Linked DNA regions of Homo sapiens. The protein of the gene in region 3 purifies or fractionates together with the protein of the main gene of each other region. This does not show direct contact. Each region holds a gene or a part of one and is shown on either strand. Other genes may lie near its edges.

The links.
Region 1: the proteins of RPSA2 (region 3) and ZBTB11 purify together in Homo sapiens (affinity purification with mass spectrometry; one large-scale study listed by BioGRID and IntAct). This does not show direct contact.
Region 2: the proteins of RPSA2 (region 3) and RSBN1 purify together in Homo sapiens (affinity purification with mass spectrometry; one large-scale study listed by BioGRID and IntAct). This does not show direct contact.
Region 4: the proteins of RPSA2 (region 3) and MPHOSPH10 purify together in Homo sapiens (affinity purification with mass spectrometry; one large-scale study listed by BioGRID and IntAct). This does not show direct contact.
Region 5: the proteins of RPSA2 (region 3) and GAR1 purify together in Homo sapiens (affinity purification with mass spectrometry; one large-scale study listed by BioGRID and IntAct). This does not show direct contact.
Region 6: the proteins of RPSA2 (region 3) and PRRC2C purify together in Homo sapiens (affinity purification with mass spectrometry; one large-scale study listed by BioGRID and IntAct). This does not show direct contact.
Region 7: the proteins of RPSA2 (region 3) and DHX36 purify together in Homo sapiens (affinity purification with mass spectrometry; one large-scale study listed by BioGRID and IntAct). This does not show direct contact.

What each region holds. Positions count from the first base shown.
Region 1 is NC_000003.12:101,656,633-101,660,132, reverse strand, and holds part of ZBTB11 (zinc finger and BTB domain-containing protein 11), read left to right. Parts: intron 1-104; coding exon 105-350; intron 351-3,500. UniProt on the Homo sapiens protein: May be involved in transcriptional regulation.
Region 2 is NC_000001.11:113,805,977-113,809,476, reverse strand, and holds part of RSBN1 (lysine-specific demethylase 9), read left to right. Parts: intron 1-3,500. UniProt on the Homo sapiens protein: Histone demethylase that specifically demethylates dimethylated 'Lys-20' of histone H4 (H4K20me2), thereby modulating chromosome architecture.
Region 3 is NC_000019.10:23,766,004-23,769,503, forward strand, and holds part of RPSA2 (small ribosomal subunit protein uS2B), read left to right. Parts: intron 1-3,500. UniProt on the Homo sapiens protein: Required for the assembly and/or stability of the 40S ribosomal subunit. Required for the processing of the 20S rRNA-precursor to mature 18S rRNA in a late step of the maturation of 40S ribosomal subunits. Also functions as a cell surface receptor for laminin.
Region 4 is NC_000002.12:71,147,634-71,150,601, forward strand, and holds the end of MPHOSPH10 (U3 small nucleolar ribonucleoprotein protein MPP10), read left to right. Parts: intron 1-365; coding exon 366-473; intron 474-1,589; coding exon 1,590-1,820; intron 1,821-2,232; coding exon 2,233-2,382; 3' UTR 2,383-2,468; downstream 2,469-2,968. UniProt on the Homo sapiens protein: Component of the 60-80S U3 small nucleolar ribonucleoprotein (U3 snoRNP). Required for the early cleavages during pre-18S ribosomal RNA processing. Part of the small subunit (SSU) processome, first precursor of the small eukaryotic ribosomal subunit.
Region 5 is NC_000004.12:109,822,000-109,825,237, forward strand, and holds the end of GAR1 (H/ACA ribonucleoprotein complex subunit 1), read left to right. Parts: intron 1-347; coding exon 348-489; intron 490-1,965; coding exon 1,966-2,034; intron 2,035-2,418; coding exon 2,419-2,432; 3' UTR 2,433-2,738; downstream 2,739-3,238. UniProt on the Homo sapiens protein: Required for ribosome biogenesis and telomere maintenance. Part of the H/ACA small nucleolar ribonucleoprotein (H/ACA snoRNP) complex, which catalyzes pseudouridylation of rRNA.
Region 6 is NC_000001.11:171,586,530-171,590,029, forward strand, and holds part of PRRC2C (protein PRRC2C), read left to right. Parts: intron 1-473; coding exon 474-692; intron 693-1,118; coding exon 1,119-1,222; intron 1,223-1,849; coding exon 1,850-1,976; intron 1,977-2,839; coding exon 2,840-3,076; intron 3,077-3,500. UniProt on the Homo sapiens protein: Required for efficient formation of stress granules.
Region 7 is NC_000003.12:154,314,488-154,317,987, reverse strand, and holds part of DHX36 (ATP-dependent DNA/RNA helicase DHX36), read left to right. Parts: intron 1-1,824; coding exon 1,825-1,949; intron 1,950-2,707; coding exon 2,708-2,942; intron 2,943-3,500.

The DNA.
Region 1 (3,500 bases), on a different chromosome or scaffold from region 3:
TGATTTATATAATTGTAACAAAAACAAAGTCCAAATATGAGTTGAGTTTCAGTTAACATTTTGTAATGGAAATACATTTAGAGAGAATTTTATTTTTCTTTTAGTTGTGTAAAAAACAGTTTCAGTACAGTGCCTCTTTGCGAGCACATCTTATTCGTCATACCAGAAAAGATGCACCCTCTTCATCCTCGTCCAATTCCACGTCTAATGAAGCATCGGGAACATCATCTGAGAAGGGCAGAACCAAGCGGGAATTTATATGTTCCATATGTGGAAGAACATTACCTAAATTATATTCTCTCCGAATACATATGTTAAAGCACACAGGTGTAAAGCCACATGCATGCCAGGTAAAGCTATAACGTTTATTTTGCTATTTAAAGAACATTAGAACTTAACTATGTGTGCCAAAGAGACTGGTGGGATATGTATTCTCAAGTCACTCTCATTTGTAAAATGTCAGGTAAATTTATGACTTCTTTATTGCCTAGATCAAAGGTGATTCCCTATGGTGTTTTTTAATTTGCTCTCTGAAGTTGTAATTTGAATCTATTTAAGATGTTTGTGAAAACTTACTAGGGTCCAGAGGATGTATAGGGTGAAAAATAACCAGTTTATCATCCCAGTCATTCCTTAACCTTCAACTGGACCAACCAGGACTAGAAAGGAACCCATGGCTTAAACAAATCTCTGTGGTCCGTAAAAGTCCTGCCTAAGCTGTGTTCTTCTCTAGAGCTAAGGATTGAGAGTACCTAAATGCCAAAATAAGACTCAAGGGTAGTGAATCCTGTGATTAGCCAGCTTTGGGCTATTTGAAACAGTGAAAAATTTCTAGTAGCACCTGTAGCCTTATATATGAGTATGACTCAGTTTGGGTTTTTTTGTCTGTTTTGAGACAAGGTCTTGTTCTATCTCTCAGGCTGGAATGTAGTAGCATGATCACAGCTCACTGCAGCCTCCATCTCCCAGAGGATTAAACCATCCTCCCACCTTAGCCTCCCAAGTAGCTGGGACTACAGATGTGCACCACCACGCCTGGCTAATTTTTTTAAATTTTGTGGAGATGGGGCCTAACTATGTTGCCCAGGCTGGCCTCAAACTCCTGGGCTCAAGTAGTCTTCCTACGTCAGGCTCCCAAAGTACTGGAATTATAGGCGTGAGCCACTATGCCAGGCCTGACTTAGTATTTTTATTAAAAAACAGTTTTGGAACCAATGAGATTTTTTTTCTTTCTGTATTTTAATAGTTTTTGGGGAACAGGTGGTGTTTGTTTACATGGGTAAGTTTTTTAGTAGTGTTTTCCAAATTTTGGTGTACCCATTACTTAAGCAGTATACACTATACCCAGGGTGTAGTCTTTTATGCCTCACCCCCAACTCACCCTTTCCCACAAGTCCCCAAAGTCCGTTGTATCATTCATAGCTCAGCTCCCAATTATGAGTGAGAACATACGATGTTTGGTTTTCCATTCCTAAGTTACTTCATTTAGAGTAGTGGTCTCCGGTCATTTGAACCTGGGAGGTGGTGGTTGCCGTGAGCCGAGGTGGCACCACTGCATTCCAGCCTGGACAACAAGAGCAAAATTCCATCTCAAAAAAATTAATTAATTGGCCGGGTACAGTGTGGCTCACACCTGTAATCCCAGCACTTTGGGAGGCCGAGGCAGGCGGATCACAAGGTCAGGAGATCGAGACCATCCTGGCTAACAATCCTGGCCATCTCTACTAAAAATACAAAAAATTAGCCAGGCATGGTGGCACACACCTGTAATCCCAGCTACTTGGGAGGCTGAGGCAGGAGAATTGCTTGAACCCGGGAGGCAGAGGTTGCAGTGAGCCGAGACCGCACCACTGCACTCTAGCCTGGGCGACAGAGTGAGACTCCGTCTCAAAAAAAAAAAAAAAATTAATTTTTAAAAGAGGTAGTGGTCTCCGGTTCCATCCAGGTTGCTGCAAATGCCATTATTTTGTTCATTTTTATGACTGAGTGGTATTCCATGGTATATTTATACCACATTTTCTTTATCTGCTCATTGATTTATGGGCATTTGGGCTGGTTTCATATTTTTGCAACTGAATTGTGCTGTTGTAAACATGCATGTGCAAGTATCTTTTTCATATATCAGATTTTTTAAAGACAGGGTCTTTCTTATTACCCAGGCCGGAATACAGTGGCATTATCTTAACTCAGTAAACTCGAACTCCTGGTTTCAAGCAATCCTCCTGCATCAGCTACCCGAGTAGCTAGGACTTCAGGTGTATGCCACCACACCCACCTAATTTTTTTTTTTTAAGTTTTTATAGAGACCCTGCCTTTTTATAGATCTTGCTATATTGCCCAGACTGGTCTTGAACTCCTGGTCTCAAGCTGTTCTCCCACCTGGGCCTCCCAAAGTGCTGGGATTATAGGCATAAGCCACTGTGCCTGGCCTCCAGTGAGGTTTTTTATATTTCTCTTTTTTGTTCCTTTTTATTATTTTAGAAGAGAATGGGTTGAACTCTCATGTACCCTTCACTCAACTTCAGTAGTTACCAGCTCGTGGTACATGTGTTTTATGTATACTGTTATTTACTACCCTACTCCCACCTCCACCCCCACCCTGCCAGGTTTTTGTTTTTTTTTTTTGGAGGCAGGGTCTCACTCTGTTTCCGCAGGCTGGAGTGCAGTGGCGCCATCTCAGTTCACTGCAACCTCCACCTCCCAGGTTCAAGCAATTCTCCTGCCTCAGCCTCCCGAGTAGCTGGAACTACAGGCACACGCCACCACGCCTGGCTAATTTTTTGTATTTTAGTAGAGACAGGGTTTCACCATGTTGCCCAGGCCAGTCTCGAACTCCTGAGCTCAGACAATCCAACCACCTCAGCCTCCCAAAGTGTTGGGGTTACAGGCATGAGTCACTTTGCCCAGCTCCGCCAGTTATTTTGAAGCCAAGTCCTTCCTAAGGATCACTTTATTTGTAAATTTATGGGTTTTTTGTTTTTTTTTTTTTTTTGAGACTGATTCTTGCTCTGTCACTGAGGCTGGAGTGCAGTAGCACGATCTTGGCTCACTGCAACCTCTGCCTCCTGGGTTCAAGTGATTCTCCTACCTCAGCCTCCCGAGTAGTTGGGATTACAGATGCCTGTCACCACACCTGGCTAATTTTTGTATTTTTTTTTTTAAGTAGAAACAGGGTTTCACCATGTTGACCAGGCTGGTCACGAACTCCTGACCTCAAATGATCCGCCCGTCTCAGCCTCCCAAAGTGCTGGGATTACCAGCATGAACCACCACACCCGGCCATAAATTTAAATACCAAGTATTAGTTGGGCCTCTGGTCTTCCCATGTGGCACTACTCAATATGTGTGGTCTGTGGACAATAAGTACAGAAATAGAGAGTAAGCATGTAGAAACTGTCATAGCAATTTGGCATTGTCACGTCATTTTTAACAAAAATTTTTGTGTTTAACAAAAATTTCTCCCAGTGGATTGTGGAAAAGGAAAAAAAAATAATTAGTTC
Region 2 (3,500 bases), on a different chromosome or scaffold from region 3:
ACATAGTTTGACTGATATCTTTTTTGTCCTCTGAACATCTTTATTGTTACAGTGGTATGCAGGAGGCATGCCTCTGGTATTAATCTGAGTTTAAATCATGGCTCTAACACTTACTGTGTGAGCCTGAACAAATTGCTTTACCCTCTCTCAACTGCACTTTTCCTGTCTATAAAATGGGGTTGTGGTATTTCATTTATAAGGAACTTGTGTGGATTAAATAGGGCATTGTGTGAAAGTACTTACAGCAGTGCCTGGCTCATTGTAGGCACTTACTTAAAACCGGCCTTTATTATTTTATTATGCATGGTCCCTAAAACAACTCTAAGATTAATAAGGAGAGTGGGCAGATTCTTGTTACTTACAAAGCTATGTCCTTCCTTCGCTTATCCTCAGATTTTTGGAAACTATTTTAACTGTTTTTTTTTTTTAGATAATTAATGATTCACAGGAAATTGCAAACATAGTCAAGTCCTTACCTTTTACCAGTTTCCCTCAGTGGCTACATCTTACATAACTATTGTATAATATCAACACCAGGAAATTGACATTGGTACAATGTATATGTAGTTATATGCTATTTTATCATATGTAGATTAGTGTAACCACCACTACAATCAAGATACAGAACTGTTCCACCACCACAAACCCTTTACAGCCTTAGGCACTCCCTCTGTCTCTCTACTGTCCCTGTCCTCTGGCAGCCACTAACCTGTTTTGTCATTTTGAGACTATTATATAAGTTGAATCATACAGTATGTGATCTTTGGAGATTGCCCTTTTTCACTCAGTGTGATGTCCCTGAGATCCATCCCTCTTTTTCATTGCCGAATAGTGTTCCATGGTATGGATGTACCATGGTTCACCTATTGAATCATTCCCGTATAAGAAAGGACATTTTGATTATTTCTAGTTTTTGGCTATTATAGATAGAGCTTCTATGAAAATTGGTGTTCAGGTTTTTGTGTGCATGTAACTTTTCATTTCTTTGGTCGTATGGTAAATACAATTAGCCCTCTGTATCCATGGGTTCCACATCAATGGATTCAGCCAACCTGGGATTGAAAATATTTTCAAAAAAACATTGTCTGTACTGGACTTGTGCAGACTTTTTTTTTCTTGTCACTGTTCCCTAAACAATACAGTATAACAATTATTTATATAGCATGTACATTGTATTAGGTATAAATAATCTGGAGATGATTTAAAATATAGGGGAGGATGTGCATAGGTTATAAGCAATTATTATGCCATTTTATATGAAGGACTTGATCATCTTGGATTTTGTTGCCCTGGGAGGCTCTGGAACCAATCCTCCATGGATACCAAGGATGACTATATATATTTATTTTGTTTGTTTGTTTTTTAAGATACTGCCAAAGTATTTTCTGGAGTGTCGGTACCATTTTACATTCCTGTCAGCGGTGTAAGAGAAATCCATTTTCTCCACATTCTTGCCAGTATCTGGTATTGTCACTATTTTTATTTTAGCAATTTTAATAGACGTGTGGTGATACATCATCATGATCTTAATTTGCATTTCCCAAATGGCTAGTGATAATACACATCTTTTCATATCATCATTTGCTGTCTATATATCCTGGTCAGTAAAATGTCTCTTTATACCTTTTGCCTATTTTCTAATTGAATTTTGTGTGTGTGTGTGTGTGTGTGTGTGTATACATATACATATATATATATATATAATTTTTTTTTTTGAGACAGAATTTCACTCTTGTTGCCCAGGCTGGAGAGCAATGGTGCAATCTCGGCTCACTGCAACCTCTGCCTCCCGGGTTCAAGCGATTCTCCTGCCTCAGCCTCCCGAATCGCTGGGATTACAGGTGCCTGCCACCACACCCAGCTACTTTTTTATATTTTTAGTAGAGACGGGGTTTCACTGTGTTGGCCAGGCTGTTCTCGAACTCCTGACCTCAGGTGATCCACCCGCCTCAGCCTCCCAAAGTGCTGGGATTTCAGGCGTGAGCCACTGCGCCCGGCCCTTGAATTGTATATTTTTTATTACTGGGTTTTGATAATTTTTTGTAGATCACAGGTGCAGCTTCTTTGTATGGTTTGCACATATTTTCTCCCAATCTGTTGCTTGTCTTTCCATCCTTTTTGTTTGTTTGCTTGTTTTTATTTTGGTTGTTTTTTTTTTTTTTTGAGATGGATTCTCACTTTGTCACCCAGGCTGGAGTGTAGTAGCACGATCCTGGCTCACTGCAACCTCCACCTCTTGGGTTCAGGCGATTCTCCTATGTCAGCCTCCCGAGTAGCTGTGATTACAGGCATCTGCCACCATGCCCGGCTAATTTTTGTGTTTTTCAGTAGAGACGGGGTTTCGCCATATTGGTCAGGCTGGTCTTGAACTCCTGACCTCAGGTGATCCGCCCGCCTTGGTCTCCCAAAGTGCTGGGATTACAGGCATGAGCCACCACGCCCAGCCTGTTTGTTTTTGTTTTTTTGGGGAGGGTCTCACTCAGTTACCCAGGCTGCAGCACAGTGATGTGATCATGGCTCACTCTAGCCTCAACCTCTGGGGCTCAAGTGATCCTCCCACCTCAACCTCCTGAGTAGCTGAGACCACACGTGTGCACCACCACACCTGGCTAATGTTTTTTTTTTTTTTTTTTTTTTTGATAGAGGCAGGGTCTCTCTGTGTTGTCCAGGCTGGTCTCAAACTCCTGGGCTTAAGTGATCCTCCCGCCTTGGCCTACCAAAGTGTTGGGATTACAGACAGGAGCCACTGTGCCTGGTCCTTTCTACCTTCTCAGTGGGATACTTCACAGAGCAAAAATTTTAAATTTTGTTGATATCCAATTTACTAAGTTTTTTTTTTTCTTTAATGGATCATGTTTTTGGCATCATATCTAACATACCAAGTCCTAGATCCCAAAGATTTTCTCCTTTGTTTTCTTCTAAAAGTTTTATAATTTTAACTTTTGTATTTTAATCTGTCATCCATTTGAGTTAATTTTGTACAGGTGTGAGGTTTAGGTCGCCATTTTTTTTCTTCTTGCCTAAGGATATCCAGTTGCTCTAGCACCTTTTGTTGAAAAGATTAATCTTCCATTGAATTGCTTTTGCACTTTTTTCAAAAATCAGTACAACCTGTAATGTAACAATGATTTTTTTTTTTTTTTTGAGACAGAGTCTCGCTCTGTGCCAGGCTGGAGTGCAGTGGTGTGATCTCAGCTCAGTGCAACCTCCACCTCCTGGGTTCATGGGAATCTTATGCCTCAGCCTCCTGAGTAGCTGGGATTACAGGCGCCCACCACCACACCCAGCTAATTTTGTATTTTTAGTAGAGATGGGGTTTCACCATGTTGGCCAGACTGGTCTCAAACTCCTGACCTCAGGTGATGTGCCTCCCACAAGTGCTGGGATTACAGGCATGAGCCACTGTGCCTGGCCTAACAATGGTTTTTACAATTTAAAATAGTTGGAACGACCTTGTAGCGCATGGAAATCATACGAAATTTAAACTGTGTCCAGAAATA
Region 3 (3,500 bases):
GGTAATAGTGATCAATTCTGCCACTAACATAGCAGTGGGAATATCAAGGAGGGCTTTATAGAAGAGGTGACATTTGAGTGGGTGTCATTGTTTAATAGAACTTTTTGTATTAATGTTGCTGGTGCGGATATTTCATTTCCTTTTTTTTTTTTTTTTTTTTTTTTTTTGAGATGGAGTCTCACTCTCTTTCCCAGGCTAGAGTGCAGTGGTGCAGTCTCGGCTCACTACAACCTCCACTTCCCAGGTTCGAGTGATTCTCCCACCGCAGCCTCCCGAGTAGCTGGGATTATAGGCATGAGCCACTGTGCCCAGCCTCAGAGTGTACCCTTTAAAAAATTATTTTAAAAAAATTTTACCTCTTGACTCTGAAATATATTGAGAGGTCTTCCCCCAATGAGATAAAAATGAACAAGTGTGTAAACAGTTAAGAAGTTTTTTCTCAAGCTAATTTTTTTTTTTTTTTTTTGAGACAGAGTCTTGCTCTGTCACCCAGGCTGGAGGGCAGTGGCGCGATCTCCCCGGCTCACTGCAAGCTCCGCCTCCCGGGTTCACGCCATTCTCCTGCCTCAGCCTTCCGAGTAGCTGGGACTACAGGCGCCCACCACCTTGCCCGGCTAATTTTTTGTATATTTAGTAGAGACAGGGTTTCACCGTGTTAGCCAGGATGGTCTTGATCTCCTGACCTCGTGATCCGCCCGCCTCGGCCTCCCAAAGTGCTGGGATTACAGGCCTGAGCCACCGTGCCGGGCCAAATGTTTTTTTTTTTTTTTTTGAGACGGAGTTTCGCTCTTGTTACCCAGGCTGGAGTGCAGTGTCGTTATCTTGGCTCACTACAATCTTCACCTCCTGGGTTCAACCAATTCTCCTACCTCAGCGTCCTGAGTAGCTGGGATTACAAGCGCCTGCTATCAAGGCCGGCTAATTTTTTGAATTTTTGTTTGTTTGCTTGTTTGTTTTGTGTTTTTGGGAGACAGAGTCTTGCTCTGTCATCCAGGCTGGAGTGCGGTGGCATGATCTCGGCTCACTGAAACCTCTGCCTCCCGGTTTCAAACCATTCTCCTGCCTCAGCCTCCTGAGTAGACAGGTGCGTGCCACCACGCCCAGCTAATTGTATTTTTAGTAGAGACGGGGTTTCGCCATGTTGCCCAGGCTGTTCTCGAACTCCTGACCTCAGATTATCCACCTGCCTCGCCCTCCCAAAGATTTGGGGTTACAGGCGTGAACCACGGTGCCCGGCCTAATTTTTTGTATTTTTAGTACATACGGGGTTTCATTATGTTTGCCAGGCTGGTCTCTAACTCATGACCTCAGGTGGTCCATCTGCCTGGGGCTCTCAAAGTGCAGGGATTACAGGTGTGAGCCACCACGCCTGGCCTCTCAACCTGATTTTTATTTTTAGTAGACACATTGGTGATGAGACAATCAAATGTTCGCATTGATGAGAAAAGGCAGAAATGATTTTTGTTCTCTGGATTCTTGAAATAAAATTTTTTCCAAAGGACAAGAAGATCCCATCCCAGTAAGGCAATGCAAGAACCTGCAAGCAAAATGTACCTGAGACTCACAGTGGGGTACAAAGTGTCTCCTGGGAAGGTGGTCACTGAGTAATTTAATAGGCAGGATGGGGATGACAGAATATTTTGAGTGATATTATGGTCTGACTTGACAGTGGAGTCAGACATGTTTGTGTCCCAATCAGCACTGCCACTTCCTGAGTTTGTCACCTTGGAAAGATTTTTTCACTTATTTCAATTTCAGTTTTTTTTTTTTTTTTTTTTTTTGAGACAGAGTCTAGCTCTGTCGCCCAGGCTGGAGTGCAGTGGTACAATCTTGGCTCACCACAACCTCCGCCTCCCGGGTTCAAGCTGTTCTCCTGCCTCAGCCTCCTGAGTAGCTGGGATTACAGGCGCCCACCAGCATGCCCAGCTAATTTTTCTATTTTTAGTAGAGACGGGGTTTCACTGTGTTGGCCAGGCTGGTCTGGAACTCCTGACCTTATGATCTGCCCACCTCAGCTTCCCAAAGTGCTGGGATTACAAGCGTGAGCCACCACGCCCGGCCCAATTTCAGTTTTTTAATAACTGTAAATTACATTTCATCAGAAGAGCTTAAAAGATGTTTAAAAAGTCAACGACTATGAAAGGTATATTTCAGAAAAATCTAGTGATATGTTTTATTTGTTAAATTTATGTTTTTTTCTGGTTGTGTAATTTTAAATAGAACCCCAGGGGTTTGCTTTGAGAATGCTACCAGAGAAGAGAAATAGGAAAAATCTTTTTTCCATTATGGCTATACAAAGTGAATACATTTCCACAAGCAAATATGATAGATTAATTGGTGCATTGTATATATTTCTCAAACCATCAGCTCCTCTTTTTTTCAAAGTCTAGAATTTGTAATGGTGGATATCTCTGTTCTGTATTCTGTTGTCTAGATATCCAAGTTTAATGCAAAATTTTATGACATGGAACTTGACACTTTCTAGAAATGTTCACATATGGTTGTTTATTAAATTATCTCTCATGGAAATATTTAAATGACATGTTTATTGTCTGAAAAGGACAGATATTTAAGCTTTTTTTTTTTTTTTTTCTTTTTTTTTGAGAAAGAGTCTCGTTCTTTTGCCCAGGCTGGAGTGCAGTGGTACAATCTTGGCTCACTACAACCTTCACCTCGCAGGTTCAAGCGATTCTCCTGCCTCAGCCTCCCTAGTAGCTGGGATTACAGGTACACACCACCAGGCCCATCTAATTTTTCTATATTTAGTAGAGACAGGGTTTCACCATGTTGGCCAGGCTGTTCTCAAACTCCTGACCTCAGCCAATCCGCCCGCCTCAACCTCTTAAAGTGATGGGATTACAGGTGTGAGCCATTGTGCTTGGCCCCCTTTAACTATTTTATGTGACTCTTCTCTCTTACCTGAACGTTGCCCAAAAAGAGATTGTGACATATATTTGGGCCCAGCACCAAGGTGATGTAACTCTCCTCTTCAGCCGGGCCTTGCCCACAGAAGAGAGAATGACTTATTCCTGAGTTTAGCATACAGGTGATTTGATTCTTCTGCTGACTCCCAGAAGTCACTGTAACATATATCTGGGTCCATCGCTGAGACTGTGTGACTCTCTTCTCCCTGGGACCTGTCCACAGTGGGGATTGTGACGTATTGCTTGGCCAAGCACCTACGTGATATGACTCTTTTCTTAGGCCTGGGCCCTACCCACTGGAGTGATTTTGACACATTGCTGGGCCTAGCTCAAAGGTTATATGTGACTTCACACTTCTTCCTGGGCCCTACCCATGAGGGGCACTGTGTCTTAACTCTGAGACACTTAATTAGGTGATGTGACTCTCTTTTTTCGAGATGGAGTCTGGCTCTGTCACCCAGGCTGGAGTGCAGTGGCAAAATCTTGGCTCACTGCAACCTCCACCTCCTGGGTTCAAGTGATTCAACTGCCTCAGCCTCATGAGTAGCTGGGATTATAGGCATGCACCGCCACAGT
Region 4 (2,968 bases), on a different chromosome or scaffold from region 3:
GTGCACTCCAGCCTGGGCAACAGAGCAAGGCTCTGTCTCAAAAGAAAAAAAAAAAGAAAAAGAAATACATGCTGTTGGAATGGTTTTGAGACAGAAAACCCTAAAATACCCAGGTCTCTGGGATCCTGAAGCAGTGCTGCCCCTCAGCACTGCCGTCATGCCAGTCCACTTAGGACTTTGGCTGTCACCATATCTAACATTTTAAATAGTCTCCATTAGGTTTGCTGACTTTCAAGCAAGTGAAAAAAAGATAATCTCCATAAAGTATTTTATATATTATACTTTAAGTTAATAGGTTCACAGTTCACACATTTTGTGTTAGAGTCCCTTCTGGCTTCCCATTGAATGTATTATCTCTTTTCTAGCCTGTACCAGAGATTAAAGTTGTGTCAAATCTGCCAGCCATAACCATGGAGGAAGTAGCCCCAGTGAGTGTTAGTGATGCAGCTCTCCTGGCCCCAGAGGAGATCAAGGTAAGAAGCCAATGTTGAAACCTTAAATGTCTGTTACAAGTTAGTTGATCATAGCCAGACTCCATTTATTTGACGTCATTTGCCTTGCACTTGTAGTTCTTATTCCAATGTATCTCAGCAGTTTCTAAGTATAAGCAAACTAGTAATGTTATAATATTCAAATACCAGTCTCCTATATTCTGGCTTTATTATGAGGTACAGGTTTGAGAGTTACTGTAAGAGCAGTTTTAAAATAGCTAGTATCAATATCTTATTATAATCCAATCTGAATACTAGCAGTGATGTTAAGTTGAAAACAAATGGCTTGCATTGCATATATACTAGCAATAGTTTAGTGTCAGCATTTCCCCCTTATTTTATTCATGTAATGCTAATTAGTAATGGAATCTGAATCTAGAATCGAGCATTTGGTTATCAGAAGAGGCTAGATATATCAAATGCAGCAATCCCTGCCATGTGAACATTGAAGCTTATGCCTTACACAGTAATAATGGTTTCTGCCAGGTGCTCATCTTCCTGGCTGGCTTAGCAGCAGGGCCTTCTTTTTCCCTCCTCACTTGATTTGCTACACCTACACTCACCCCTTCTGTCTGAGCCTCTGCCACCTCAGTGCAGGTGACAGCCCTGGCAGGATAGGCTGGCAGCTGAGGAGAAAAGAGATAGAATTGATCCTCACTAGAGAGATGTTTCCCTTCCCTTCCTCTGTTCCTTGGTCTCTGCCCTCTGGCCTCAGTCCAGTTGCTGTCATTAGCAGCTCAGAGCTGAGGCTGCCTCTGGCATGTCCCTGAAGCCCATTGGAATCTAAATGCTGTGGAGGGCTGGCTCCTCTTGTGCTGTTAGGTTGAGAACCCAACTCTCCATGTTGCCTTCTTGTGAATTAGTTTGGGAACTGAACCGTCACTATAAGAGTCTGTGCCTGTCAAAGAATGCATTTCAGGTTTTAAAGAGCTGAGTTACCAACGCTCATTGGAATGCAGGTGGGGATTGCTCTGCATCTTTGTGCATTTGGCCACAGATGCACAGCCTGCTTGCTGGCTACCCTGCAGTTTCTTCCATTCCAGTTTCCTAGTTGTTAAACTTGATGAATGAATATGTTGGTGGTTATTTTTTTAATAGGAGAAAAATAAAGCTGGAGATATAAAAACAGCTGCTGAAAAAACAGCTACAGACAAGAAACGAGAGCGAAGGAAAAAGAAATATCAAAAGCGTATGAAAATAAAAGAGAAGGAGAAGCGGAGAAAACTGCTTGAAAAGAGCAGTGTAGATCAAGCAGGGAAATACAGCAAAACAGTAGCTTCGGAGAAGTTAAAACAGCTGACCAAAACTGGCAAAGCTTCCTTCATAAAGGTAAGGACAAGGGAAAGAAAACTGCTCAAGGGGACCTTTGTGGGGGAAGTGGATAGCAAGTGCTGGGTGACTGGAATGTCTGAGCCAGCTGACAGCCCACCTGCGGGATAGAGATGCATGATGCTGACTGGCTGGAATCGCAACCTTTAATGTTCTAGAATTTTTCATGTAGGGTCCTCACAATAACCTGGGTCCTGGCAGCAGCTTGTCTTCCACTCCTTTCTCTCTTAGATTATAAGAACATTGTAGCAGTGCAGAATACCTCTATGCTAACTGATTCAGTTTTCTGTAATTCTAGTCCTTTTTCATATTTATGGTTGCATACATTGTTGTAATGGTGATGTACTATTTTTGGCTTTTTTCACTTATAAGTACATTTTACAGCATAAGCATGTGGTGTTTTTAATTGCAGGATGAAGGTAAAGACAAGGCCTTAAAGTCCTCTCAAGCATTCTTTTCTAAATTACAAGATCAAGTAAAAATGCAAATCAATGATGCAAAGAAAACAGAAAAGAAAAAGAAGAAAAGACAGGATATTTCTGTTCATAAATTAAAGCTGTAATATATTTTGAATATAATGTAAATATTAATGTGTAAGCTTATATTGTGTCATTGTTCTGTTTTATAATAAAATTCTTGAGAACCTTCCTTTGCATCGATGACAGATATTTGAGGGTTCCATAGTGTGAAAAGACAAACCCCTAACCATTTGCAAAGCCCTTCCGGTTTTCACTGGTATGAAGCAGGACCTGGCTCCTCCCCAGGCCCTTCCTGTTCAGGCACTGCCTGAGCTGATCCTGCTGTGCTCTTGCCGTGGCCCAGGCCTGTGTGAAGGCCAGGCCAGCTTGTCCACATGGGCTGGTGAGCAAGCACTGGCCTGCAGGCTGTGAAGAGGACAGAGCCAGCCAACCCCCTCACAAGCAGCTGTCTACAGCAGAGGTCCTCACTCTTTGGGCTCTTGATTTCCTTCTCCCATTGCCCTGTCATTTCATAAAACAGTAGCATTTTCATGCCTGTGCCTTCCTTCCCCTTTGGGAAATGATCTCATGTCATCTGAACAAAGGTTTAATGTAGGCTGTAGAGCACTATCCACAATCAGCTGCAGAGGACAGGTATGATGGAGAAGTGAATCTAGAAGCAACAGAAGC
Region 5 (3,238 bases), on a different chromosome or scaffold from region 3:
GGGGGGAAGGGGAGGGAGAGCAATAGGGCAAATACCCGATGCATACGGGGCTTAAAACCTAGATGATGGGTTGATAGGTGCAGCAAACCACCATGGCACATGTGTACCTATGTAACAAACCTGCACGTTCTGCACATGTATCCCAGAACTTAAGGTAAAAAAAAAAAAAAAAAAAAAAAAGAAACCTAAGTTAGTAAGAAATTAAGTCTCTACCCAGGGATATGTAGTAGAAAGTGGTAGGATTGGGGTTTGAACCCAGGCAGTTTTGACTCTATCATGTAGCTTCTTAATGATTATATTATACTGTCCCCCAAGTTGTATACTAATTGCTTCTATTATGTTTCCAGTTTTATATAGACCCATATAAGCTGCTGCCACTGCAGAGGTTTTTACCTCGACCTCCAGGTGAGAAAGGACCTCCAAGAGGTGGTGGCAGGGGAGGCCGAGGAGGAGGAAGAGGAGGAGGTGGCAGAGGTGGTGGCAGAGGCGGTAAGTTACTTGGGGAAAATTTCTAATGAAATTAACTGTGACTTTCACAGCTAATTCATACAATACAATTTAGCTTTGTACATAGCAAACCTCCCTTATGGTTCTTTTTATTAAAGCTGCTTTCCAATATTGGCAGATTGTCCATAATAATAATGCTTCATTTCAACAACTTACTTAAAAAGAAGAAAATCTACTAAAGTATACTTTTGAGGGACTTCATTTCTTTGGGTTATTCATGTTTTCTTGGACATTTTAATAAACCGTAAGATTATCTTAATTTTAATTCCTTAGTTAATATTATTGAGTGTAGACTGCATGCTGAAAGCTGGTCATACATTCTTTTAATTTCCATGTATATATTTTTAATACTCAGCGAAACCTTTTGAGATAGATGATATCCTTATTTTATGAATGAGGAAACGGAGACTTACAGAAATTAATTTGCCCCAATCAAACAATTGGCAGACCCAAGAATTAAAATGCATATCTTCTGATGTCATGTCAAGAACTATTACTAATAAATTCATTACTGTGATCTCACTGTTGTGATGTATGCCTTTCCCCCAAGGTTTTGGGGTATTTTGATGTATGCCTGTTTTGATGTATGCCTTTCCCCTAAGGTTTGGGCACATTCATCATTATGGACAGCTAGGTGATGAGCAGGGCTCTGGGGAGTGGGGCTGCCATGCCCTGTGAGTAGGAGAAGGGCGAGTGATGGGGTGATGGGCAGAGCCAAAGTGGAAAGGGAGAGGAGCTGAAAGTTGGGCTTGGACAGCTTTTGTTACTGGATCAGAAAAAGAGAAGGAACGCCTCACTTTTGGCGTTTCTCAATTTAATCACCATTTCACTCCATAAAGGTATTTTTTTGTGTCCATATAGGTAGGAAAATTCTCAGGGGTACCTTCTTGAGAATTTGATGAACAGAGATTCCCCTATTCTCATGTTATGTTGAGTATCATTTAACATTTCAAAAAATTCACAGCTGTCTTATTTTTTTAAAATCTTACTTATGTAGCTCAGTTAATCTTAACTATCATATTTATTATCTTACCCCCAGAGCAAAAGCACCCATATCTGCCACCCTTTGTTGTTAGGATAAAAAGCCACAGTTCCATCAAACTATCCTTAGTTGAATCAAAAAAGTATTTATCATAAGCAAGAGCTAAGGCAATAGTCATACATTTAACAAGACTGAATCATACTTTAACAAGTTTTTCTAATTTATTGAAATGGAATAATCTGGGGTTTTAGCCTGTTGCCCAGTTGGTAAACTACTACAGTTTCTCCATTTTTATCTTCTAAAATTTTTTCCCTGATAAAATATGTGAATCTATATTTATTCATTATAATTATAGTTATTGTATTGATCTTTTTAGGCTTATCAATATAAGAGGTTATACAGTTAATAACTTAATGATTATTATATTCTATTGTTATTTAAATACTTTGCGTTATTATTTAATAAATGTTTTTTAGGTGGTTTTAGAGGTGGAAGAGGAGGTGGAGGTGGGGGCTTCAGAGGAGGAAGAGGTGGTGGTTTCAGAGGTGAGTATTTTAAAAAGTCTTTAAATTGCTTAATGTTTAAAATTGATATTATCTGGCATTTTCTGTTTTTACTTAAGTTTAATTTTCTCTGCCAGCAAGTATATAGAACACCATGGTGTTCTTTGCTTAGCCTAATTTGTGGTTTCATTTTATATCACTTTTTTTTTGCCTTTTCTTTTCAATTTTTTCACCTAATTCTAATTTGTTTTGCTTTATTATTAATTTGAAAAATAAAGGTGTAATATGAATGACAGTTAAATTTGGTAAAGTATGTTTGCTAAACATTATTGGAACTAATGCTGATTTTAAACTTGAGATTTAGGTTATAATACTATTAAAAATCCATTTTCTGTGCCCTTAATACTTTAATTTTCTCTTAATCAGGGAGAGGACATTAAGTGAAACAGTTGACAGACATCACCAGTTGACTTCTGCATTAACCTGCATGATCTGTTTCTACTATGGATTGGAAACTTGTTTCTTGAACAAGTCTTGAAGATCTTGGTCATTTTATGACAATGGATCTAAAATGTCAGCATCATGCAAAGTGCAACGGAATAGTGAATTTTGCTCTAAAAGAGCATGAACAAGTCTTTCTAATGTTTTGTACAGTGCCTGGCACTCTGTGGGTGCTCAATAAATGGATAGGAGTTTTCATTTGAAGCATATTTGAATTTTTAAAATAAAGTGTTTTATTCCCTTAAGTTATTTAGAGTGTGTTTATTAAATGAAACCCATTTTTTAAAGTAGAAAGGAATAACTAAAGCTTAAACCCAGTGAATTGCAGATCGAAAAAAGGATTTGTTTATTTATATTACTGATCTTTTAAAAAATAGACTACTGTAGCAGTACTTTAAGATAATTTACAAGTTGACACTGCCTTTCAAAACCCTGGCCTTTTATGTATGAGAAGATAGCTTTGTATTTGCCTTTTGTATTTTAATACATAAATCAGTTAAGCTGTTTCTCTAATTGCAATTAATAATTGATTTAAAAATTTTCCATATTAGTAATGTATTAAAGATGCAGTAGCTCTGTTGAAGTGAAAACTATAGCAAGAAATTTCTAAAGTTAATTTTTCTCATCCAACATAAATGGAATATTAGAAGTTTTACTGAATGTTATTTTATTTTTACTTTTTTAAAGGGACTCTAAAAGTTTAAGGTGTTATTTACTACACGTAAATATTCGTGTAGTATACTAC
Region 6 (3,500 bases), on a different chromosome or scaffold from region 3:
GGATGTGTTCTATGTATTTTATTTTATTTTATTTTATTTTATTTTATTTTATTTTATTTTATTTTATTTTGAGACAGAGTCTCGCTCTGTCGCCAGGCTGGAGTGCAGTGGCAGGATCTCGGCTCACTGCAACCTCCCCCTCCTGGGTCCAAGTGATTCTCATGCCTCAGCCTCCCAAGTAGCTGAGACTACAGGCACATGCCACCACATGCAGCTAATTTTCGTATTTTTTTTTTTTAGTAGAGACAGGGTTTCACCATGTTGGCCAGGATGGTCTCGATCTCTTGACCTCGTGATCTGCCCGCCTTGGCCTTCCAAAGTGCTGGGATTACAGGCATGAGCCACTGCACCTGGCCGATGTGTTCTGTTTGAAATCTTACTCAAAAGTATTTGAAGAGTTGTGTATAGTTGTATGGATATGTCTGTAGTAAACAGAAACAAATTGCTTCAGTTTCTCTTTACTTATTTTCTAGGTTACAGTACCTTTACCAGCATCGCAGCTTTCCTTGCCTAATTTTGGATCTACAGGGCAACCTCTAATTGCTTTGCCTCAGACTCTTCAGCCCCCATTACAGCATACCACTCCCCAAGCACAGGCTCAGAGTCTGAGTCGTCCTGCACAAGTAAGCCAGCCTTTCAGAGGATTAATTCCTGCTGGAACACAGCATAGCATGATTGCAACCACAGGAAAAGTAAGTAAAGAGACATTTGCACAGGTTATTTGAGAATTTAAGGTAGTGTGTTCAGATATATGCATCTGTGTTATCTAAAAAACTAAAATGCGTCAGTTTTTACCACCCTGCAAAAATCTCAAACCCCAGTATATTTACATTTTATCTATTTACTTTTAATGTGTTTGGCCCCATCTAGTTTTTACCTAATAACAAAGAATTCACAAATTTATTGGAAGAATTGGATTTATAGTGTCTCTTGGGCTTATTTAATTATAAGTCTGTTTGGTCAGGTAATTCCATAATACTTGAAGCCTAACTATAGGAGTTTTGTACTAAGGTTCTTTGCCCTTTCCTAGATTACGTCTTCACGTATAGGACATGTAAACACAGCACTTAGCTTGTGGAATTAAAGAAATGTTAAGTTTATTTTATGCTTCTCCTCAGATGTCTGAAATGGAACTAAAAGCCTTTGGAAGTGGCATTGATATAAAACCAGGCACACCTCCAATCGCTGGTAGAAGCACCACACCAACATCTAGTCCCTTCCGGTAAAATGGGCATTTAAATTTGCTTATGAAATTCCAATTTGGTCACTATTTGTTAAATACTTATCAGTCCTGTGTGACATAATCCCTTTTCCAAGCAGAAAAGGAATTATTAAGACATTCTTTTTGATAGTTTTGTCTAAAATGTTAAGCTTTTAAATTATTTAAAATGTGTTTATTGTACTATATTTTAAGTAAATTCTTTTGTTACAGAGCAAACCTTTTTTTCTTTTATTTTTTTTGAGACAGAGTCTCACACTGTTACCCAGACTAGAGTGCAGTGCCATGATTATAGCTCACTGCAACCTCAAACACCTGGGCTCAAGCAAGCCTCCTGCCTCAGCCTCCTGAGTAGCTGGGACTACATACACGTGCCACCACACCTGGCTAATTTTTAAAAAAATATTGTCCAAGCTGGTCTCGAACCAGCCAATCTAACTGGTAACTGGTATCCTTTCTTACCTCTGCTCCTCCAATGTCTCTCTTCTACCAGAATGTTTTGGTAATCATCATAGTAAATTTTTACCAACTACCAAGTATGATGAAAATACCAAGAACGGTGTTTGCAAAAATCTAACAGCATTATTTACTTGGTATTACTATACTGACTAGTAATGGCTTCTTTCCAAGGGCTACTTCTACAAGTCCGAACAGCCAGTCCAGCAAAATGAACAGCATTGTCTACCAGAAGCAGTTCCAGTCAGCCCCTGCCACTGTGAGAATGACACAACCATTTCCTACACAGTTTGCACCCCAGGTGGGCAGACATAATTAAGAAATGAGTATTATTTACTTAAAAATAGTTGCTAATCTGATAAATTATTATCTTGCCTTATGTTAACCAGTTAAGAAGTACAGTTTTTAATAAAAAATTGTTTCTGAATTTAACAATAAATTTATTTTATAAAGATAGTCTGCGATTTATAGCCAGACATGGTAATTGTTTAGTTCTAAAGCAGACAAGAGAAATAGTTAAAAGATTCCCCACACAGCTCTGATAATGAGTCCTTTTCCTTTTAACTTTTTTTAAGGAGTTGACTTTTCAGCGAAGGGTCCCAGTGCTTGAAGTTTTCTAGGTTTAAAGTTGTTTTTTGTTGTTGTTAAGATATTTATGTGCAATTGAGATAAAATTTCCAAAAAGATGTTTTAATATATGTAAAAAATGTTGGCTTCTCTTCCCCTTGCTGATCGTATAAAAGGACTAAGAACTCTCACAAACTAGAACTGGTTCCTGAGAAATTCACATTTGTTGAATTAGTATTGATTTTATTTATCTTCAGATTACATTTGTTACAGGTGTGTGCCTTTTCTGCAACTACCTTTTGAAAAGATAGCCTAATTAAAAGTCTTTCTATCCCCCCTTCAGAATTTACAACTGAGATGCTAGGACCAACTGAAGTGCCATAGCATGCTTTGCCTAGTTTTTCTGTTAAACTCTCCAAGCATGGCCTGTTTATTCCTTGTCCTTGTTAATGGAATGGCACAATCTGTACACTTCCTTTCACTGGTAGGATGGGCACAGATTTACTCTGGGATGAGCCAACCTGGTCTAGTTGGCAGTTTTTTTTTTTTTTTTTTTTTTAACAGTTCAATGTTGTATGTTTTGTTTTTTTCACTCAGATTCTCTCCCAGCCTAACCTGGTCCCTCCATTGGTAAGAGCCCCACATACTAACACCTTCCCAGCGCCTGTTCAGAGGCCACCAATGGCACTGGCCAGTCAGATGCCTCCTCCGCTGACCACAGGCCTCATGAGCCATGCTCGTTTGCCACATGTAGCCAGGGGTCCTTGTGGATCACTATCTGGAGTCAGAGGTAATCAGGCCCAGGCTGCGTTGAAGGCTGAACAAGACATGAAGGTTAGTACAGTGTTAACAGCCAACAGATCAAGAATCTGTCTCTGAACCATGTCTTAAAATGCCTCTGGACCCATAACTGTATATCCAGGCATTCATTGTCTTAGCAGACTTAACCAAGCTAACTACTTTTATTCATTCCCCCTTTTTTTTCTTTTTTTTCCCCCATTCCCATTCCTTTCATCTTTTTTTTCTTTTTGTTTCTTTTTCTTTTTCTTTTTTTTTGCAACTGTAGTCAGGAAATGAATTAATGTCTTAAACTGTGGCCAAATGAATTGTTATCAAATAAATATTTGAGGGAGATCTGAGTTTAGATGCACACTTTTTTTTGGAATAGCAAAGAAGTAATATCAATTATTATAGACTTCCCCATTTTCTTTCTTTTTTTTTTTTTTTTTAATATATATTTTCTTCCCCCCTTTCCCCT
Region 7 (3,500 bases), on a different chromosome or scaffold from region 3:
ACCAGCTATTTTGGTGTTTGTTTAATTGGGATAGAATACAGTGAAGAGAAGATAAGAGTTGCACTGTACAGAGTAAGGGAAGTATTTTGTGAAATTACTTGTATATGTGTGTACTGGGTCATTAGTTTTACTGTGGATTGCTATAAAAAATAAACAATTGAAATCTATTGCTCTAGATTTTACAGTATTTTACACATTGCTGTCTGCTTTCATCAGTCTCCTTACCCTAGCTCCTGCTTCCCTCTTTTTTCCCCAAAAATCAAAACCAAACCTCAAAAACCAAAAATACCTTGAAGATCATTCCCAACTGCCTAGTTGTTGGATACAGTAGTAATTTTTTCAGTTCTCTGCCTTACTTACGTCCATTTTATACTTCTGAGTCCTTTTTTAACACCTTTCTTCACTTCATAGGAGTGGTTTTCTCACTGTGTGCTCCTAGTCTTTTGTTTGTTCTCTTGATTACTCCTCTGACTTATTTTCTTGCCTTGGCCCCGTGAATGCCAGACTTGGTCATCCGTCTGTCCTCATCTTTGGAGGTGGTATTATTTGTAAATTAAGAGAATTCCTGTGTCTCTGTGATTTCAACTTTGCAGAACACTCCAAAATTTCTATCATAACTCTAAAAACAAAACCTCTCAGAGATCAATTTCCATATATTCATCTACCTAGTCATTATTACAAGTCGGGAAATTTCATCTTTGTTCTTAATTGCCTAAAATCCAAACTTAGCATCCTATTGTGACCTCCATCACCACCACATGTACACAAAAATGTACAGTAACACAGAGCAGCTTCCTTTTAATGATTCATCTTACTGCTGCTCTCTCAGGATCCACCCTTGAATTTGAAAACAGTTCTTTGATTCTTTCTTCCTTTTTGTCTCTCCCCAACTTCCACCAAATAGTCATTAAGTCCTGTGGTTTCTTTCTTTCGATTTTTGACTGTTTTCTTTCCATTTATACTTTTACCTTCCTCCTCCTTTGGTTCTTTAACCTAACACACTCTAATTTTCACCACTCCGCGTGTGTTTCCTTTTGCCTGTGGATTTATATGCACGTTAGAACCTAAGGTTTGTAGTCCCATAAATTTTGAAGAATCTGTTTTTCAACTTTTCAACTTACTATATCTAAATATAAAAGTCTCCAAAGAATTGGGTTTTGGCATTCATTCTCTTTTTTTTTTTTTCACCTTGGACATTTCTTAGATGCGTAAAGTTTCTGCAAAGTTTCATAGTTCACCAAGGACCTTTATATTTGTCCAGTCTGTTGTGTTTTATTCTCATTCTTTGAAGCAACTGCGTCATTTGCCACATTGGATCACCTTATAAGCACTGATGAATTTTATTTACTCCTTCTGAGCTCAGCCTTACTTACCAATTTATTCTTCTGTTTAGTGTAAGAACTTTCAAATGTTCATTACAACCAAACTATTTCCAGTTTTCAACTTTTTTCGTAAACCATTTGAGTTTTAATAACTTTGAAATTTTAAGATAAGGAGAAATTCATAATAATTAGTATGTGAGGGTTTGGGGTAAGAGAACCAGAGTTGTAGGAAGAGACATAAATGAGCTTTCTTTGCCAATCATATTAGGGCTAATTTTATAAATGCTTGTTGGAAAAGGTCTAGAAGGATATGTACGAAAATTTTAACAATTAATTAGGTCTAGGAAGGGGGGTATTGGGCTAGAGGACACCTGTGGATAACTTTCTTTTATATGTATTTGTTGAACATATATTACTTAGCCTTTATTTTCTTCAGTATCAAATAATTTTTGCATATGCTTTCTTATGTTGACAAGGATGCTTTTTTCTTTGCACAAACTAGAGAGCTGTAGTACACATGGATGAACGACGAGAAGAACAAATTGTACAGTTACTGAATTCTGTTCAAGCGAAGAATGATAAAGAGTCAGAAGCACAGATATCCTGGTTTGCTCCTGAGGATCATGGGTACGACAAGAAATATTTTTTTAAAGAATAGGCAAAGAGTAACACTTTAATAATAAAAATAACATCTTTATTTTCTTCGATAAGTGAATTTTAACCTTTACGTACTTTTTTTCCTTATGTAGATTAAACAGATTTAGAAAATGACTTTTAAAAATTTAGATGGCATGTTTCCATAGGAAAGCTAAATGGTATGAATAATAGTGTATCTGGATATGAGATGTATTAAGTTGTTATTTATTGTTCTCCCTACCTGTCCTCTTTGTATTTATGAAATTATTCTGTCTGGGAGATCTGCAAGAAGTGAAATTGCTACCGTTTTAGAAAGATTACAAGAACTGTATCATTTAGAGGAAAAATTAGTACAAGTATTTCAAAGACTGTGTATTGTAGCATCCTATTTGTAGCTCAGAAAGGGTGGCAAGAAAAAAAGATGTTGTGACATAAAACAAGTTCGAGAAATCCAGAAAAAGAGAAACACTGTAAGTAACCGCAGTGAAGGAATGACTATTCTGTGGATTTTTATTTTTAACTATCACAAGGAATAACTTAATCTGGCAATATCTATTTAAAGGGAAGAAAAATTTGAATTTATTATAAGAATCTAAGTATATTTTCATAATTACTGTACTAAGAGAAAAGAAAAGCTTTGGATTTGGATGACTTTGAAATATTTCAACAGCGTATTGTTTTGTTTTGTTTTGTTCCAGTGTTTGAGTGGCTCATCTGACCTTTCTTCCTTTCTTATTTTGTCAAAACAGATACGGTACTGAAGTTTCTACTAAGAACACACCATGCTCAGAGAACAAACTTGACATCCAGGAAAAGAAGTTGATAAATCAAGAAAAAAAAATGTTTAGAATCAGGAACAGATCATATATTGACCGAGATTCTGAGTATCTCTTGCAAGAAAATGAACCAGATGGAACTTTAGACCAAAAATTATTGGAAGATTTACAAAAGAAAAAAAATGACCTTCGGTATATTGAAATGCAGGTAGTAGAAAGATGTCAAAAAATATTTTGTCATTTTTTTCTTACACTTTATAAAAATGTATGTATGGTTAGAGGTAGCTGCATGGCATAGATCAGTGAGATCCTCAACAAGACATCCCTGTGGGAATTAATTTCTTTTCGAATGGTAGAGAAAAGCAGTGGGAATGGAAGTTACACATAACCTACAGTATCCTATCTCATCCACAGAAGCTTATGTGGTGAGAAGAAATGTTTGAGAAATGCTAGTGCCAATGAAAAAAAAACTTACTCTTCAGCTTTTCTAGGCCAGTTTAGTGAGGTGCCATGTGCAGTAAAGGCAGTTAAAATTGTAAAGCTTGTTCCAGATTACTTAATACATCTTCTTTTTATAGATGATAAAATTAAATATTTCAAAAATTATGTGATGTGCTTTGTTCACTAACATTTTAAATACAGGACTATCACAACACCTGAGATCTCCTGAATTCTGATATTTTCTTTCTATGCTAGGCAAGATATTTTAAGGTCCCTTTCAGTTAAAACATAAAATTGTGTGATTTGTGGGTGTTCTAGAGATGTA